Regions from separate parts of the Homo sapiens genome. Here region 2 is linked to region 1. The links come from fine-mapping of genetic effects on gene expression. A gene starts in region 1. The other region holds a variant in brackets. All regions are shown on one strand. Distances are between the middles of the regions.

Region 1 (4,398 bases):
AAATACATGTTAGGGCTTAGCACAATGTCTCACTCTTTTATATTATAAATATGTTATATGTATATTAATAGATGTCACAAGACATCTATTAATTTTGATAAAATGTAGAAACTTAAGGGAAGGAAATTATTTTTGTTTTTTATTCCCATATGATGTGATTACAGACAATCTTACTGTTTTGTTTTGTATACTTTTCTATATTTGTGAATGTTTTTGAAATAAACATGAGTTACATTTAAAGACAATAGAACTATAAACTTCACAAATTTAGGAGTAATCATGAGTAGCGATTTTTCCCACCCTATTAGGGGAAATAGTTGTATCTGTATACACTGTAAAATAGAGAATTGTCTCATTCCCAACCATACTGCTTTGTTAAAATGATAAAGTACACTTTTCCAAAAATGATTGTATCACAAGAATCTTTAATGTTTACTTTAAAGTTGACTCACGGTGGGGTTGTATATGTGTTTAGTAAAGTGTGCCAAGTGCTCACACTGAGACCAGTCCAGTTCAAATTAGTGTACTCCACGAGGGTGTTTTCTGTGCCCAGCAAGGTCATGAAGGGCCTTGACTTTTCTTGGTTAGGCCGGCTTTGCTGGTGACTTCTTCCAAACTCTGCAGGAGCAGTCTACCCCAACACACATCATCAGTCCCATATAAAAGAATAAGATGGAAACTTTCTCAATGTATTTCATCAGTTTAGCACATCTCTGGTACAAAAATCCAAGAAAGGTAGCACAAAAGCGAAAGCACCAACCAAGCTTACATATAAACAAACATGCATACATCCTAAATACTACACAATAGTACCCAAATGAATACAACATTGCATTAAAGGTATAAAAGCACTGTACTGAAAACTTAAAAGTTACACGTGAATACTGCACTGTAAATCCTGAATACTATAATGACCCACCCCCACCCTTCCACAGCCCTGGTGAGGGTCAGAAACCATTCATCTGCCTCCAGACTTTGCTAGTCCTCAGAGACACTGCTGCGAGGGTAGTGGGCAGTGGGATTAGCCTCCCGCAGAGCTCTGGCCTCCTCCAGAGCTTCTCTGTATCGGGAGGGCCAGGCCTGGGGGTCTTTCTTAAAGACCCTGGCCAGGAACTCCATGATTTGCATCTTGGTGATTTCGCGGCTGGCCCGGGAGCCCCAAAAGAACTCGTATTCGGGCGGCTCCACGTATGGGACGCGCTGGTACTTCAGGTAATTCATTTGGACGAACTCCTCAGTGATGAGCTTCCGCACGTCCCCGAAGGTGGAGTGCTTCTTCCAGGGCCGCAGCCCCAGGATGCGCAGCACGTTCCAGACGGCGCTCTCTCTGGCGCCGCGGCCCTTCACGTAGATGAGGCTCAGGATCATGAGCAGGAGGCCTGTCATGGGCATGCGGTTGCTCAGCGCCACCCTGTCCAGCTCCTCGGGCTCCAGCGCTTTGACCAGCGCAAACTCCATGGTGTGCAGGCTGGTTAGCCTCAGGTGCAGCCCGAACACCCGGGCGAGGATGAGGCTGGTGCGCCGGAGGATGCTCCTGCACCACTTCTTGTAGCTGCCGATGACATCTTTCACCATGTCTGGAAACCAGATGATCATCTTCTTCTGGTCCTTGACCAGCACGTACCACATGAGCTCGTGCGCCTTCTGCACCAGCTGCGCCGGGGCTGGCGGTGCCGGGCCCGGCTGGGCCGCGCTCGGGGCCTGGTGGGCGCGGCCCTCCTCCGCAGCCTGCTGCAGGGCCTTCGGGTCGCCCTCGTCGTTCGGGGCCTGGGGAGGCGGCGCGGCCTGCGGAGCGGCCGTCGGGCCTAGAGGAGGGCTCTGCGGCTCTGCCAGGGTCGCGGACGGAGGAACCCCCTCCGAAACCCCAGGGCTGCTGTGCACCTCGGAGTTGGGGGCCTCGGCTGCAAAGTTAGGGTCGCTCAGATCCTTACTTTGTTCTGACATGTCTGCGCCGTCTGGCAAGGGCAGGGCCTCTGCGTCCAGGAGCTCTTCGAGCCTGCGCTCCCTCCGCGGATTCCTGGAGAGGAAGTGCGCGTTGCTGCGCGCGGCGCCTTCCGCAGCGACGGGCAGGGCGGGGCGGCGGCGGGACGCGGCACTGCGCCTGCGCGACCGCGGCCTTGGCCAGCGGCTGGGGGCGGGCGGGGCAGCGCGGGGCCCCGACGGGGAGGGTCCATGGCGAGGCTTCACCTGCTGGGAGAGCGATCCCGGGGTTTCCTGTTTGGGCTGAGAAGATCTAGGGCAGGAGAGAAGTGAGATGGATGCGTACTGGAGAAGGGGCCAGTTTAAGGGAAAGATACCTTAAGTTTTTGGGATGTTGGGGTCAAGTTTCTTGGGAAACGCTTACCTGGGTATATCCAGAATTAAGTTAAATATGAGAGTCCCAGAGAAAGGTCTGGGCGGCTTTGTAAACATGAGCTTTATGCGAACCAGTGAGAGGAACAGTCGGGCTTGTCCAAGAAAATGTGTAAACTGTAAAGTGGATGTCTGAGGTTGGAATCCTGAGAAATTCCAATAAAAAATGATCGACTCCCTACCAAATCAGATAGGCTATAAGAAAAGGGGAAATGCAGTGTGTCGTTAACGTAATTTCCTATCAACCCATGTGAACTATGAACTTTTTAAGTAGGCAGTGGACTTAGAGCATCATTAATGCTTTAACGGGCATAAATTTGGGTTTTACACTTCCTTTGGGTAACTTTGATTCCATTTTATTTTTTTCCATACTTAGTCCATAGCAGAAGGATTGCTATATCTTTTAGCACAAACTTGTATGATAATGTCTTTTCCCTCTGCCCAGCACCCTCATTCTTCAATTCACCTTCTCTCAGGACCCTCTCTGAAGCTACTGAGTCCTCCACGTTGGAAGCCACACCCAAGTCTTTCCTGAGATTTAAAAAAAAAATAGGTCCCATGGGTAATATCTGGTAGTGTCTCTGAGATGACCAAAGGGTAGCAGGGGAAACATAGGTAACCCTGTTTTCCAGGTATGGAAAACAGATTCCCAGTGGGCAAAGACAAAACTGTCACTCCTACAGGCTCTCCATGAAAAAAAGGGTCATTGCCTGAGCATCTGAAACCAGGGACCTTAATGCTGCTTCAGCATCCTTGGTCTGGGCTGATGTGGTCCTTCAGCTCTTCCCGGGTTTCTTCTCATCAGCAGCTTCTTAAATATGCTGTCTTGAATCTAGTTATTGCCACTCGAAGCCAAAAGCATATTTAAAAATTGTCTTGACATGTCTAGAGTCCTCACTGTGAGTATGTATCTTTTCCCACTTTATTTTTCCTCAAGCAGGTTGATGTTGAAAGGTTTTCTGTGCTTTCTCTCTTTGGGTTTGCACGCACATAACACTTTTGGCAGAGCCATTACCACACCAGTCCCTCCAACAGGACTCTTAAGCTTCCCACTTCACCAGGGTAATTCCTAGATATCAGTCTTAGTTGGAATTATTTCAACACTTTTCTCCTCCTCCTCACCCTCCTCCACCTCCTCCTTCTCCTCTCCATCTACTTCTCCTTTTTCTCCTTCTTCTATTTATAGATATCTACCATTTTCTTGGGAACATCTTACAGAAATATGCTAATTATATTCATTGTTTTTAAGAATGTCTCTTGAACAGACTTATTACCCCCATGCTTCATAAATATAATCCTCATTTATTGCATTTAAATCTCCATCAATATTATTCTTTATTTTGTTTGGGTATGTATTATTTTCTAACTATTTAAATAAAATATTTAGGCCAGGTGCGGTGGCTCACGCCTGTAATCCCAGCACTTTGGGAAGGTGAGGCGGGCAGATCACCTGAGGTCAGGAGGTCGAGACCAGCCTGGCCAACGTGGCAAAACCCCGTCTCTACTAAAAATACAAAAATTAGCCGGGTGTGGTGGTGGGCACCCTTAATCCCAACTGCTTGGCAGGCTGAGGCAGGAGACTCGCTTGAACCTGGGAGGTGGAGTTTGCAGTCAGCTGAGAGCATGCCACTGCACTCCAGCCTGGGCAACAGAGCGAGACTGTCTCAAACATTAAATAAATAAAGAAATAAAATATTTAGTTCATTTGATATATTTTTTAATAAGAAAAGTGTTTGAACCTACTATTTAAATCTCAACTTGGCTTTGGCCATAGGCTATGGTTTTTAACATTGTGATCTCATTAAAACTGCATTCTCACATGTCACCCTCCGAGATGTAATGGATTCTTGAAATTAAAGTGCAGGCTTGGGGCATGACAACAATAAAAGGTGGCTCTGCTGAAGTGAGTATCAGCGCTCTGGCCAGAGAGCTGCTTGGACTTCAGTTGCTGCCTGGGCAGGACTGGATAACTTCTACCTGGACTTCATTCTAGTGAAGTTGCCAGCATCAAGCAGACTGTGCAGAAGGCCTCTCCTGCAGCACACA
Region 2 (4,398 bases), 77 kb after region 1:
TCGGACGTGATGTCTTCACTGTTTAACAAGACTCAGAGCAGACTGTTTGAGATTGGGGGGATTCTCGGGAAACCTGGTATGCTGGTCTGTGTCTGTGAGAGCTTTGTTTCTGCAAAAAAATGTGTGGACCAACAGCTGGGAGGGGGAGTGTGTAGGAGGGAGGGAGGGGCAAGCCGTGAGCCCTCCCGTTGAGAGGAGGGGGCTTCCGGCCTTGCACTCTCTTCTTTGATGCCTGGCAAGTTCTTCATTGTGTTTGTGTCTCTTTTAGGGTCACAGCAGAAGCAGGGGTGGGAATAGCAGGGAGAAACAGAGGGCTAATGCGCTGCCGACCCTTCTAACCTGACATCCTCTCTTGTGGGCTGACAGCCGTTCATCAGCCATTTTCTGTTCTGTTCCTATGAAGGCAGACTTCAGTGCCTCCAAATAAATTGCCTTTATGCCTATCTGCTCCCCATCCAAATACAACTGTGGGTGTGGACATTTGGGATGGAATATTGGGGCCTTCGATTCAGGTGTGGATGAATGGAGAAGTCCTGATCATCTGTGGTTTAAGATGTGGAATTAAAAGGCAGATGGAATTCGACAAGAGGTGAGTTAAGAACTTGATAGAGTCAAGGGTGACTTCAATAACAGCTCAAAAAATAAAATAAAAAATAAAGAAAAGAAAAAACATAGCCTTAGGAGGCCCTAATGTCAGAAATGCAAATTGTGCTCAATGAAAGCCTTTTGCCCACATTAACTTTCTGACCCCAGAAGCATGCCTAGCTCAGGGCTGGTACAGGGTACTGATGATATTCTACATGATCATCCAAGGAGAGCCCACAATAGCTGAAGTTTCGGTCTGCCCTGTGCTATATCTGTGCAGGTTTTTATTTTTTGTCCTTTTGATGACAAAGTTGATTACAATCTGCTGGAAGGGACAGTTTTGTTAGACATTTGCTATATTTTTCAATGTAGTAAGGCTTGGATGTTTGAAATTGGGATTCTTGAGTAAAAGCTGATTTCAGGCCTATGAGTAAAAATGCTGTGTTTTTGAGAACAAATCTCTTCGTGAGTCACTTGTGTCCATAGCAGCCAAAGGGGAGGGTGGGGGGGCTTGTGTCTGCGTCCTGGGAGGGGTCCTCTGGGAGCATGCGCACTCCCTCTTGCTGCATTGCAGGGTCTTTGTGCTCCTGCGTCAGCACTGGGAACTTGGTGGTGGGGTGGTTTGGAGAAGAGCGGAGGAGGTTGTGCGTTTGTCTTTATCTCCCGGCTTCTCCCTCCCTCTCAATGACGCCATGATTATTAATAAACCATTTCTCACTTATTGCTGCAGATGTAAACACTTCACCAGAATTGCGCAGCTCTTGCGTGCGCTTTCCTATTGACGTAGCTGGCGGGCTGGGATTTTGAGATGGGCTATGAGTATCCCAAATTTAGATGTAAAATAAAATACCCTGATCATTTGGGAATTATGATGTGGAATAAAAGGTAAAGTGATGTTTCACAAGGCGTAATTAAAGGCTTGGGGGTGTGGGGTGCAGATAAATCTGAACACTGCTTCCTGTGGACCCTCCCCTTGGTTAACCCTCTGAGACCCCCGAGCTTTGCCAGCCTGGAGCAGTGGTGGGAGGCTGAGCAACTACAGAAATCTACATGTTTACGTTGGGCCTCAATAAAGGGGAATCTGCAAGTTTCCCTTTTGGAAATAATGGTGGTGGCAACCGAATGGAAGCTTTTGGGGTAGAGAGTGTGAGCACTCGAGAATGAATCCACTGCCTCTGTTCTGGGACTACTCTCTCTCAAATCACAAAATGCTCACGGGGCAGGACGGGTTTTCCTGCAGTCATTGCTGTTGACTGTGAATGTGGGGTTGGAAGGGTGGTGTGGTATTGGTCTATGGGTTTTGACAAACGGAAAGTGCCACGTATCCATTATGACAATTATCACACAGGATCCTTTAACTACCCTCAAAAGAAATCCTCTGCACTTACCTATTCAACCCTCCATGTCCCCAAACCCCTGGCAACCATTGAGTCTCTATCATTTTGCCTTTTCCAGAATGTTATATAAATTGGATTGTGCAGTACGTAGTGTTTTCAGAGTGGCGTCTTTCTCTTAGTAATACACATTTAAACTTCCTCCATGTTTTTGCAGGCCTTGATAGCCCATTTCATTTGATTGCTGAATAGTATTCCATTATGTGGATGTACCACAATGCATCGTTCACCTACTGAAGGACATCTTGGTTGCTGACAGTTTTTCTCGAGTAGGAGCAAAGCATATGTTACCATTCATGTGCAGA[C/A]TGTGTGTGTGGACTTCAGTTTTCAAAACAGTTGGCTAAATACCTAGGAGTGTGATTGCTGGATCATATGGTAATGCTATGTTTAGCTTTGTGAGAGGCTGCCAGATTGTCTTCTGAAGTGGTTGTGCCATTTTGCATTCCTGCCAAAAATGAATGAGAGTCCCTGTTGCTCTGCATCCTCTCATCAAATGGTGTGGTCGTTTTTTTGGAACTTAGCCATTGCCATAAATGTAGTAGTAACTTGTTTTAATTTGCACTTCCTAATGGCAAATGCTGTGTAGCATCTTTTCATGCTTTTCATTCCAATTGCATATTTTTTGAGAAAGCGTATGTTCAATGTTTTGCCTATCTTTAACTTGATTTACAAGTGTCCTCCTTTATCCACCATCTTGCTTTCCACAGTCCAAATACGTTAAATGGAAACTTCCAGAAATAATTCATAAGTTTTAAATTGCATGCCATTCTAAGTAGCATGATGAAATCTCAAGCCATCCCAGTCTGTCCCACTCAGGAATTGAATCATCCCTTTGCCCAGTGTTTCCTTGTTGTCCGTGTTACTTGCCCTTTAGTCACTTAGTTGTCGTCTCAGTTAATCAGACCCACTGTCATGGTATTACAGTGTTTGTGTTCAACTGACTCTTATTTTACTTAATAATGTAACCTCCCAATGGGTTCTCCTTGCCCGCTGCCCAGATAGAGGGGAATTGCAACAGAGACAGCAGATTTATCAAGACAGGAAAATTTCAATACAGAAAGAGTTTAGTTCACACAGACTTGGCTAAACAGGAGACAGGAGTTTTATTACTTAAATCAGTCTGCCACAGAATTCGGAGACTGGGGTTGTTCAAGGACAATTTGGCAGGTCAGTGGAGGGCAGGGAATGGGTCAGATTGGTCGGGTCAGAGGGGAAATCATAGGGGGTGGAACTGGGTTCTTTTTGCTGTCTTCTGTTTGTGAGTGGGATCGCAGAACTGGTTGAACCAGATGGCTGATCTTGGTGGCACCAGCTGGTGAATGAGAATGCAAGGTCTGATTCTGGAGCACCAGTCTTAGGTTTTATAATAAAAATGCTATCCCTAGAAGCAACTGGGGAGGTTAGGATTCTTGTGGCCTCTGGCTGCATGTCCTAAACCATAATTTCTAATCTTGTGCCTAATTTGTTAGTTTTACAAAGACAGTCTGGTCCCCAGGCAAGGAAGGGGTTTGTTTCAGGAAAGGGCTGCTATCATCTTTGTTTCAAAGTTACACTATGAACGAAGTTCCTCCTAAAGTTAGTTTGGTGCATGCCCAAGAATGGGTGATACGATCTGGCTGTGCCCCACCGAAATCTCAACTTGAATTGTATCTTTCAGAATTCCCACATGTTGTGGGAAGGATCCAGGGGGAGGTAATTGAATCATGGGGGCCAGTCTTTCCTATGCTGTTCTCGTGATACTGAATAAGTATCACAAGATCTGATGGGTTTATCAAGGGTTTCTGCTTTTACTTCTTCCTCATTTTCTCTTGCTGCCACCTTGTAAGAAGTGCCTTTCAGGCCAGGCGCGGTGGCTCACGCCTGTAATCCCAGCACTTTGGGAGGCTGAGGCGGGTGGATCATGAGGTCAGGAGATCGAGACCATCCTGGCTAACACATTGAAACCCTGTCTCTACTAAAAATACAAAAAATTAGCTGGGCGTGGTGGCAGGCACCTGTAGTCCCAGCTACTCAGGAGGCTGAGGCAGGAGAATGGCATGAACCCAGGAGGTGGAGCTTGCAGTGAGCTGAGATGGCGCCACTGCACTCCAGCCTGGGTGACAGGGCGAGACTCCATCTCAAAGAAAAAAAAAAAAGTACCTTTCACCTCCTGCCATGATTCTGAGACGTCCCCAGCCATGTGGAATTGTAAGTCCATTTAAACCTCTTTTTCTTCCCAGTCTTGGGTATGTCTTTATCAGCAACATGAAGACGGACTAATACAGTAAGTTGATACCAGCAGAGTGGGGTGTTGCTGAAAAGATACTCAAAGATGTGAAGGTGACTTTGGAACTGGGTAACATGCAGAGGTTGGAACAGTTTGGAGGGCTCAGAAGAAGACAGGAAAATGTGGGAAAGTTTGGAACCTACAGAGACTTGT

The links. PIP is the estimated chance that this variant, and not a neighbour inherited with it, causes the effect.
Region 2: its variant is the best candidate, but not a certain one, in a credible set for the expression of NDN in cerebral cortex (GTEx, PIP 0.71).

Annotation. Positions count from the first base shown.
Region 1 is chr15:23,685,274-23,689,671 of GRCh38, forward strand. It overlaps NDN (necdin, MAGE family member), which reads right to left and starts at 2,032. Exons shown (of 1, transcript NM_002487.3): 1 at 127-2,032. The coding sequence starts at 1,944. The coding sequence ends at 979.
Region 2 is chr15:23,762,072-23,766,469 of GRCh38, forward strand. No RefSeq gene overlaps it. Among named protein-coding and RNA genes, the nearest start is that of NDN, 77 kb to the left of the region's middle. The variant C/A (reference allele first, on the strand shown) is at 2,285.